3 separate regions of the Homo sapiens genome follow, and all the other regions are linked to region 1. The links come from fine-mapping of genetic effects on plasma protein levels. Region 1 holds a variant in brackets. A gene starts in each other region. All regions are shown on their reverse strands.

Region 1 (2,847 bases):
TATTCTTTTTGAAAGGACCAAAAATATTACATTTTTGTGTGATTGTACATTTGCAGTACAGGGAAAAAGTAAGAAATAAAAAGATCTGTCTTAAGGTACATTGGCATTTGTTTGCTGACTAAAATTTTACAGTAGGGTTTTTTTGTTGTTATTTTGAGATAGTTATATAGATTCACATGCAGTCGTAAAAAAAAAAAAGTAGTAATTCAGAGAGCTCTCGTGTACCCTTTACCTGGTTTCCTGCAAAGGCATTATCTTGCATAACTGTAGTACAGTACCACAACCAGGAAACTGACATCACACAATCCACCCACCCTATTCAGATTTCACCAGGTTTACAGGTACTCACTGGGGTGTGTGCATTTACTTCTATGCAGTTTTATCACATGTATGGACTTGTGTGGGCACCACCACAGGCAAGATACAGGACATTTCCACCACAGGGACCCCTCATGCCTCCCTTTTATCGTCACACACATCCCTTTCCCTCTCTTGTTCTCTAACTTCTGGTGACTACTGATCTATTCTCCATCTCTGCACCTTTGTCATTTCAACAATGTTATATACATGGAATTACACACTATGCATCTTTTTGAAATAGGCTTTTCCATTCAGCATAGTTCTTTGAAATCCAACCAAGTTGTTTTGTGTGTCAGTAGTTTATTTCTCTTTATTACTGAGTAGTAGTCTGTGGTGTGGATGTACCACAGTTTAGCCATTCACCTACTGAAGAACATCTGGGATGTTTCCACTTTGGGACTATTAAAAAATAAAGTTGCTGTGAACATTGGTATACAGGTTTTTATGTGAAATGATTTTCATTTCTCTCTAATAAATGTCCAGCATTGCTGGATTATACAGTTAAGTGCATGTTTAGTTTTGTAAGAAACGGCCAAACTTACATTAAAAAAAAATAAATAATAAACAGAAACTACCAAACTATTTTTTTTTTTTTTTTGAGACGGACTTTCGCTCTTGTCGCCCAGGCTGGAGTGCAATAGCACAACCTCGGCTCACTGCAACCTCCATCTCCCGGGTTCAAGCGATTCTCCTGCTTCAGCCTCCCGAGTAGCTGGGATTATAGGCACCTGCCGCGACGACTGACTAATTTTTATATTTTTAGTAGAGACAGGGTTTCACCATGTTAGTGAGGCTGGTCTTGAACTCATGACCTCGGGCTCAGGTGATCCGCCTGTCTCGGCCTCCCAAAGTGCTGGGATTACAGGCGTGAGCCACTGCACCTGACCTACCAAACTGTTTTCTAGAGCGGCTGTGCCATTTTATATTCCCACCAGCAATGTGTGAGTGATCCAGTTTCTCTGCATCCTCACCAGCAATTGGTGTTGTCACTAGTATTAGCCATTCATCTGGACATATAGTGACATCTCATTGTGGTTTTAAAAATTTGGATTTCCCCAGTGGCTAATGATGTTGAACATCTTTTAATGGACGTATTTACCATTTATACATCCTCTTTAATGGAATATCTATCCATGTCTTTTATTTCCTAATCCGATTTTTTTTTACAGTTGGGGTTTAAGAGTTTTCTGTGTAGTCTAGATACTAGTCCCTTGACAGATACGTGATTGGAGAATATTTTCTCCTAGTCTCTTCATCATCTTTGCAGGATCTTTTGCAGAGTAAAACTTTTCATTTTGATGAGGTCCAATTGATCAGTTTTTC[A/G]GTTTATCAGTTTTTCGTTTTATGAAACTCAGGCTTTTAATGTCAACTTAGGGTTTTGATTCCTGCCTGTTGTCATGCGCAGTGCCGGGTGGTGAGAAAGAGAGCCATGGAACAAGATAGACACTGGAGTGTGAATGATTCTTCCAGTTTCTGTCCGGTTGGGTTCTGCAGTATGTCTTGATGAGCTGCCTATTTGTTGGAGTCATGGACACAGAGTTGCCCTTGTCTTGCAAAGGCTGTAAGGTGATGATGGTATGAAAGGAAAAATATTTCCAGAATAATCCATGGTACCTCCCAACACAAGGTTTGTTTGCACTTGAGAGCTTCTGTCTGGAATACTCTTCCTTGCTTCCATCTCTCCGCCCCTTTGTCCAGTCACTTCCAGTCCATCCTCCAATGTCTGCCCATGTGGCCCTTCCCAGGAGCACTTCCCTGGCCACTGCCTCTCACCCTGGCCCAGGTGTGCCTCTGCTTCCATTCTTACACACTCTCCTCGATGTCAGAGCATTTGTAAAGTAAATACGTGAAAATGAAAGTAAATATCAAGTAATAAGACGATTTGATTAAGGTCTGTTTCCCCTCTAGACCAGGCTTCCCCAACCTTGGCACTACTGACATTTCGCTGGATAATTCTTTGTTGCAGGCGGCTGTCTTGTGCATTGTGGGTGCTGCTCAGCAGCACCCCTGGCCTCCCCCCACCTAGCAGATGCCACGGCACCACCCTCCCTGGCCCCCACCTACCAGATGCCATGGCACCACCCTCCCTGGCCCCCACCTAGTGGTGAAAACCAAAAAAAATGTCTTCAGATAGTGCCAAATGCTCCCTGAGCGACAGAGTCACCCAGGTGGAGAACCATGCCTTGAGACTCTGAGAGGTGGGAGGGCAGGTACCAAGCCCCTTTTCATGCCTATTCTCTCTCTAGCATCCCAGCGCCAGGCCTGGCACTGTGGTGCTTCATTAATATTTGTAGGATAAATTAAGGGATAAACCAACTTAATAGGGGACACTTGTTTACACGGCAGCCTTGGAAATGCTACCCTGACTTCAAAGGAACAAAGTGGGTTTTGTTGGGCACTTGAGACCCAGGAGAATCTAGAGTCTTCTGTATTCAGGTGGATATGGGTTTCCTTATGCAGTACCCAAGACAGCCCCCACACTGAAGA
Region 2 (2,500 bases), not on the chromosome of region 1:
CATTCAATCCTCACACAGGTGCTGTGGGTGCCAGCATTACCTTCTTGAGCCCTCTGTGTGCTGATATCGTCCTGGCTCACTCCGTCCCTGCGGATCTGTGATCTCTGGGGGGTGGGAGGAACCAAAAATGATAGCCTCCTCCACCCCATTCTCTCTCCTAGTTCCCTTCCTGCTTTATTGCTTCCTCAGCACTTGCAATCTGCACATACTAATAAATGAGATCTCTCTCATTTATTCTTTGCTGCCCCCAGCCCCCCATTGAGTTCCCCAGGCAGAGATGTGAGGCCTGTATCCCCACAGCCTAGGACAGTACCTGGTAAACAGTGGCGACCCAGACATAGTTGTGTGAAGAAATGCATCCCTCTGTCTTTTGCAGATGAGATTGCTGGGGTTCAGAGACGTCAAGCAGCTTGCCTGAGAGAAGCCACGCAGCTAATGAGCAGCAGAGCCCGATTCACACCCAGACATCTGGCCCCAGGGCATGTGTTTCTTGCCACTCACTGCCTCATGCCTTCTCTTTGTACTGCCATCGTTTGTCACCCAACTGCCTCTGCACCTCGGCCACGCCACCCTTGAGGATGGGGGCTGGTACCTCCTTTATCTTGTATCCACAGGACCCCACAGAGTGCCTTCCCCAGAGCGGTTTCTGCTAAATTCTGTTTAACAGAGTGTATTCATTCTGTTTGCTGAATGAATAAACAACCACATGAATGCATAAGTGTATTTCACAAACATTTGGTACTGATCAGGGAGACGGAATGCTCCGTTTAAATCCTGGGGTTCCGAAATGAGATGCTGTCTTTCAGGAGCAAGCATACTTTTGTAACAAGGCAAAAGTAAGGCACGATTCTTTGGCACATTTGTGATGTGTCTTTTGCCTCTTGATTCACAGATAAGGGTCCTTTTTTGGGGGTGAGCCCCATCTGCCCACCACACAACTCAGACACACACGGATAGGAAGACGCCTGCCTTGCCACGTTTTGGGGGAGCACTTACAGGAGAAGGCAGTGTCTAGGGATCGCCTCTCCTCAAGGCTGACTCCCACCCACACAGGCTGCCCCAGCCTCCCCATCCCAGGCACTTACACGGGATTTCTCGGCCAGCCTCGCAGGCAATGCCCGTTTCCAGATATTCTTGGCAGAGCCGGCGTGGAGGAGAAGTAGCAAGAGGCACAGAGCCCGGATGATCTGCCTCCTGCAGCTGCCCGGCCCCACGCCGGTTAAAGGCATTTCCTCCCTGGGCAGCGACCTTCCAGACGCACACAGAAGAGGGGCCCCCCTCGCTGCGTGGGCCTGTGAGTGGGGACAGGAGCGTGCACAGTCTGCTGGACTTTCTTAGTTCCACCCAGCAGGGTCCCTCGGATCATGTGTCCGCGTCCAGCACATGCCCCTTCCTCGATGGTGGCTGGCCTGCCCGGTTATTTTTAGCTTGCCCTATAACATCTGGCCCCAGACGCTCCAACCAGGGCGTCTGCAGCCCAGGCAGCTCAGTGGGCGGTGGCAGCAGGAGGAGGGGGCACCGGCTTGCTTGGAGACGTGGCCGGGAGTGGCCTGTCACTCTCCACTCTCCATAATGAGCACTTCCTTGCAGGCTGGGGCGGTCTCCTCCCAAGGAGGTGTGCTTGACACAGGGCTCGGGGCTGGACATGCAGGGGAGTGCAGCCGGATGGGTGGGGGCTCGGCTGCTACCTTGTTCACATTTCGAGCTGGGCTGACAAACTATCTGCCTATAAAAGCTTCTTTGAAAGAGGCTGCTGGACTGGCACTGGCCAAGGGTGCAGCCATGAAGAGACGACTTCCACCCTTGCACCCGCCGGGGTCCTCCTGCCTGATGTGGGCATGTGGGTAGTTCCTCATAGCGTGTGTTTCCTGTGAGATTTAAAAGAAATTGAGCACATAAAGCATTTCACACACATAAGTGTGCTGTCACTGTCAGCCGGTGTATCTGCACATGTGCATTTATGTGTATGCGTGTGTGCACGTGGGTGTGCATGTGCACGTGTGTGTTTTACAGGAATGTAGCACAGCGGGCTCAACATTTCACAAACTTCATATTCCCTTGTCTGTTCTCAGCACTTCCAAGACAGATACTGGTTTTTTGTTTTGTTTTGTTTTTCGAGACGGGTCTTGCTCTGTCACCCACGCTGGAGTGCAGTGGTGTGATCACAGATCACTACAACCTCTGCCTCCCGGGTTCAAGCGATTCTCCTGTCTCGGCCTTCCAAGTAGCTGGGATAACAGGCATGTGCCACCATGCCTGGCTAATTTTTGTATTTTTAGTGGAGACTGGGTTTCACCATGCTGGCCAGGCTGGTCTCAAACTCCTGACCTTAAGTGATCTGCCCGCCTCAGCCTCCCAAAGTGCTGGTATTACAGGTGTGTGAGCCACCACACCCGGCCCCAAAACAGACACTGTTTTGATGCCCGCTTTACAGATGAGGAAACAGAGGGGGCTGCCTGAGGTCATGCAACAGCAGCAGAGAGGAGGCTGGAACCCAGGT
Region 3 (2,847 bases), not on the chromosome of region 1:
TGCCAACACTTCTCTGTCCAAGAATTTTATCTGATTTTTAAAACCGTTTCATAAGAAAGGAATAGATGTGCTTTGAAAATTTAAAAATATCCCAGTTAGTTGGAGGTGAAATAGGTTGCCTGTTCTGTTCTGAAGTAGGAAGGGGACAGGAAGGGAAGGGGGAAAGGAAGAGAAGTGAATCAGAGGGGAGTGATGCAAAGAAGAGGAGAGTAAAGAGAAGGGGTGGAAAAAAGAGAGCTGGCATCCCTGTGCACCTGCTGTGTGAAATGTGGCACACAGCTTGGGGAAGGTGAATCCTTCACAACAGAAGTGCTGAGTAGAACTCTCAGTAACCATGGAAATGTTCTTCAGTCTGCACTGCCTGATAGGGAAGCCATTAGCCACGCATTTGAAAGGAAGCTGGTGAGGCTAAAGAAATAAGTTTTAATTTTATTTCATTGTAACTAATTTAAATGGAAGCTTGAAGAGCCTCCTATGGCCAGTGGCCTCCACCCTGGGGAAAGCAGCTGTGGACCTGTGAGTCCCACCCCAGCGCGCATGGTGCAAGCGGAGACCCTACCTTCCATGCTGAAGCTCCGCACAATGTTGGACGCTGGCGTAGTCGACTTATCGGACGTGTACCTGTTGTACAGGTCAATCATGTACTGCGGCGGCTCCACCCTGGTTTTGTCCTGCGAAGGGACCCCACTCAGGTTAAGGCTGCGCAGGAAATCCACCTTCACGTTCTCCAGAAACATCTTCAGGTTGAAGGTGTGCTCAGGCAGCCCACCTCCAGGCACCCCCAGTGGGCTGTGGGCGTTTCCCCCAGCAGACCCTCGTCCCCAGCTCTGCAGTGGCTTCCCCTGTAGGGAGCCAGCCAGCAGGGACAGCAGGGGCAGGGCCACCCACAGTGCCCCAGGACACATCTTAGGCCCGCGCAATCACCCAGAGAGGAGACTGCAGGCGGCCGTGCTGTGTTAGCGGGCACGGGGAGGAGCTGGGAAGGAGCGGGCCGGCATCTCCCTGCTGTTTGCTCTGAAGGAACCGTCCTGGCCAGCACCCACTCTCACCCGCTGCCGGGCTGGATTGTCCTCCACTTGTGCTTATCTGGTCCTCGATGCCGCGCTCCGACGTCTTATCTGAGGGAGCCTTCCGTTAATGAAGGCTCTATAAACATCTGACAAACACACAGGGCATGCGGGAAGGACACGGCCTACTGTAAAGAATCTGTGCTTCTCCAGGGGGTTATTGCCCCCTAATTAGGATACTTTCTCATTTCCTTGCCAGGGCTCTTCAGAAGAATCTCCAGGCAGGGTGACATATGCTCCATCTCCTGGGCCACAGGAGTGAAGAATCCAGGAAACAAGACCAAGTAGTCCTCCAAATATAGAAAGGACAGCACAAGATCACAGTGAACCGTGGGGGCTGGGGAGATGGGGAGAGTGTGGGGACCACATCAGGGCTCAGAAGAGGCCTGCTCCTTGCAGAATCGGAACCTGCCAGCAAGCCTCCCTGCTCTGTTGGTGGGATGCACTGCTGAGCATTAGAGATCACGAGTGAATATGGCTCCCGTGCAATTTAGTGCGGTGATGAGTCAAACTAGACACAGGCTGGGATCTCAACTCCCTCACCGATTCCCTGCAAATGTCACCTGGAACAAGTCACTGCAGCTCTTGGAGCCTCCCATTCAGAAGATAGTTATAGGGGTTAAGAGGATGCTGTGCCCCAGGCTGGCTTGGTGGCTGCATTCTGGATGCCCCCTCTCCAGCCCAGGCCTGATTGAGCTGGAGCTGGGGGAGGAAGCCCTGGGTTCCCCCAGCCTGCTCTGTCGGAGCTCCACAACACACTGCAGCCTGTGGGGAGCTCCCCACATCCCTGCATCCCAGCTGTGTCACTGGTCTGTTGTGGGGTGGTCTTAGCTCACACCAACCTGGCAGCCACCTGGCCCACACTCATCAGCAGGGAGAACCACGCAATCTGGTAGACAGGGGAGTAGGTGGGTTGTTCTGAGAGTGGTACATGCCAAGAAGATGATCCCCTGGCCTTTGGAGGCTGATAAGCTGTGGCCCAGGAAAGGGCCCCAGGGACTGCGTTAAGAGCAGTATGTCCACACTTAGACTCTGTCCATTTCCATCACGTGTGGCTTTGAGCAAAGCAAAGAAGGATCATGGTTAGAAACACTCTGGGGTATGCTGTGCCTGGTGGTTTACTCTGGGGAAGGTATTCTATGCTGGTGAGGCTGTCCGGGAGAGGCTGCAGAGAGCTGAGCAGGTTTAGGGGGGTGCAGGAGGGGCCACAGCATGCTGCGGTCAGAGATTGCAGAGGGGGATGGGTGAAATCAGGAGCCCCTGAATGGCTGGGCCTGAATAGAACTTGCTATCTCTGTCCTTTGATGACATGGGCCAGGGGAAGACGGGAAGCGTGCTGCTTCAGAAATGCTGCTTGGGAAGAGGACTGGAAGTGTGCTGGGCTTTGATCCAGCTCAGTGCAAGAATTCCATGGGGCAGAGAAAAGATGAATAAATGGGTGCCATGCCCAAGAAATGGAGCTGCAAATGCGGAGTGAGGTGTGGTCCGGGAGGAGTGAGGACAGGGCAGATGCCTGCAACATGGTCTGGCCAGGAGCTTTTCACACACGAGAGGCTGAGCAGAGGGATAGCCTAGTGGCCTGGATGTGCTCAGGGAGGAGCAAGGGGCTGCTACCTGACGTTATTTTTTAAATGTGACATTTTTTTCCCCTGTTATAACAGTAGTCTATAGTATAGAAAACTTGGGAAATGGAAAACATTAAAGAGAAAATAAATAACCTACAATTTAATCATCCAGTGATGCCCATGGTTAGCATTTTGAGACACATCCAACTCCACAA

Direction of the effects. Positions count from the first base shown, and alleles are read on the strand shown. Strength reflects both the effect of a copy and how common the allele is.
In carriers of allele A in region 1, the plasma level of the protein whose gene starts at base 1,323 in region 2 tends to be higher than with G alone (moderate association).
For the plasma level of the protein whose gene starts at base 1,120 in region 3, G is the high allele of the variant in region 1 and A is the other (moderate association).

What was found. PIP is the chance, under the fine-mapping model, that this variant and not a neighbour inherited with it causes the effect. Protein levels are from antibody-based Olink assays in UK Biobank. Linkage for the fine-mapping came from a reference panel and not from the study's own genotypes, which makes the PIPs less certain.
Region 2: WFDC1 starts here. The variant in region 1 is fine-mapped to the plasma level of the WFDC1 protein (UK Biobank, PIP 0.95).
Region 3: it holds the start of GDF2, and the variant in region 1 is fine-mapped to the plasma level of the GDF2 protein (UK Biobank, PIP 0.98).

Annotation. Positions count from the first base shown.
Region 1 is chr2:224,014,618-224,017,464 of GRCh38, reverse strand. The region is part of intron 1 of SERPINE2 (serpin family E member 2); the gene reads left to right. The region is part of intron 1 of LOC124907990 (a long non-coding RNA gene); the gene reads right to left. Among named protein-coding and RNA genes, the nearest start is that of SERPINE2, 23 kb to the left of the region's middle. RefSeq lists an enhancer at 1,878-2,377. The variant A/G (reference allele first, on the strand shown) is at 1,684.
Region 2 is chr16:84,293,701-84,296,200 of GRCh38, reverse strand. WFDC1 (WAP four-disulfide core domain 1) reads right to left here and starts at 1,323. Exons shown (of 7, transcript NM_021197.4): 1 at 1,086-1,323. The coding sequence starts at 1,229. LOC124903734 reads right to left here. Exons shown (of 6, transcript XM_047435022.1): 6 at 1,363-1,868. The coding sequence ends at 1,363.
Region 3 is chr10:47,320,727-47,323,573 of GRCh38, reverse strand. GDF2 (growth differentiation factor 2) reads right to left here and starts at 1,120. Exons shown (of 2, transcript NM_016204.4): 1 at 560-1,120. The coding sequence starts at 905.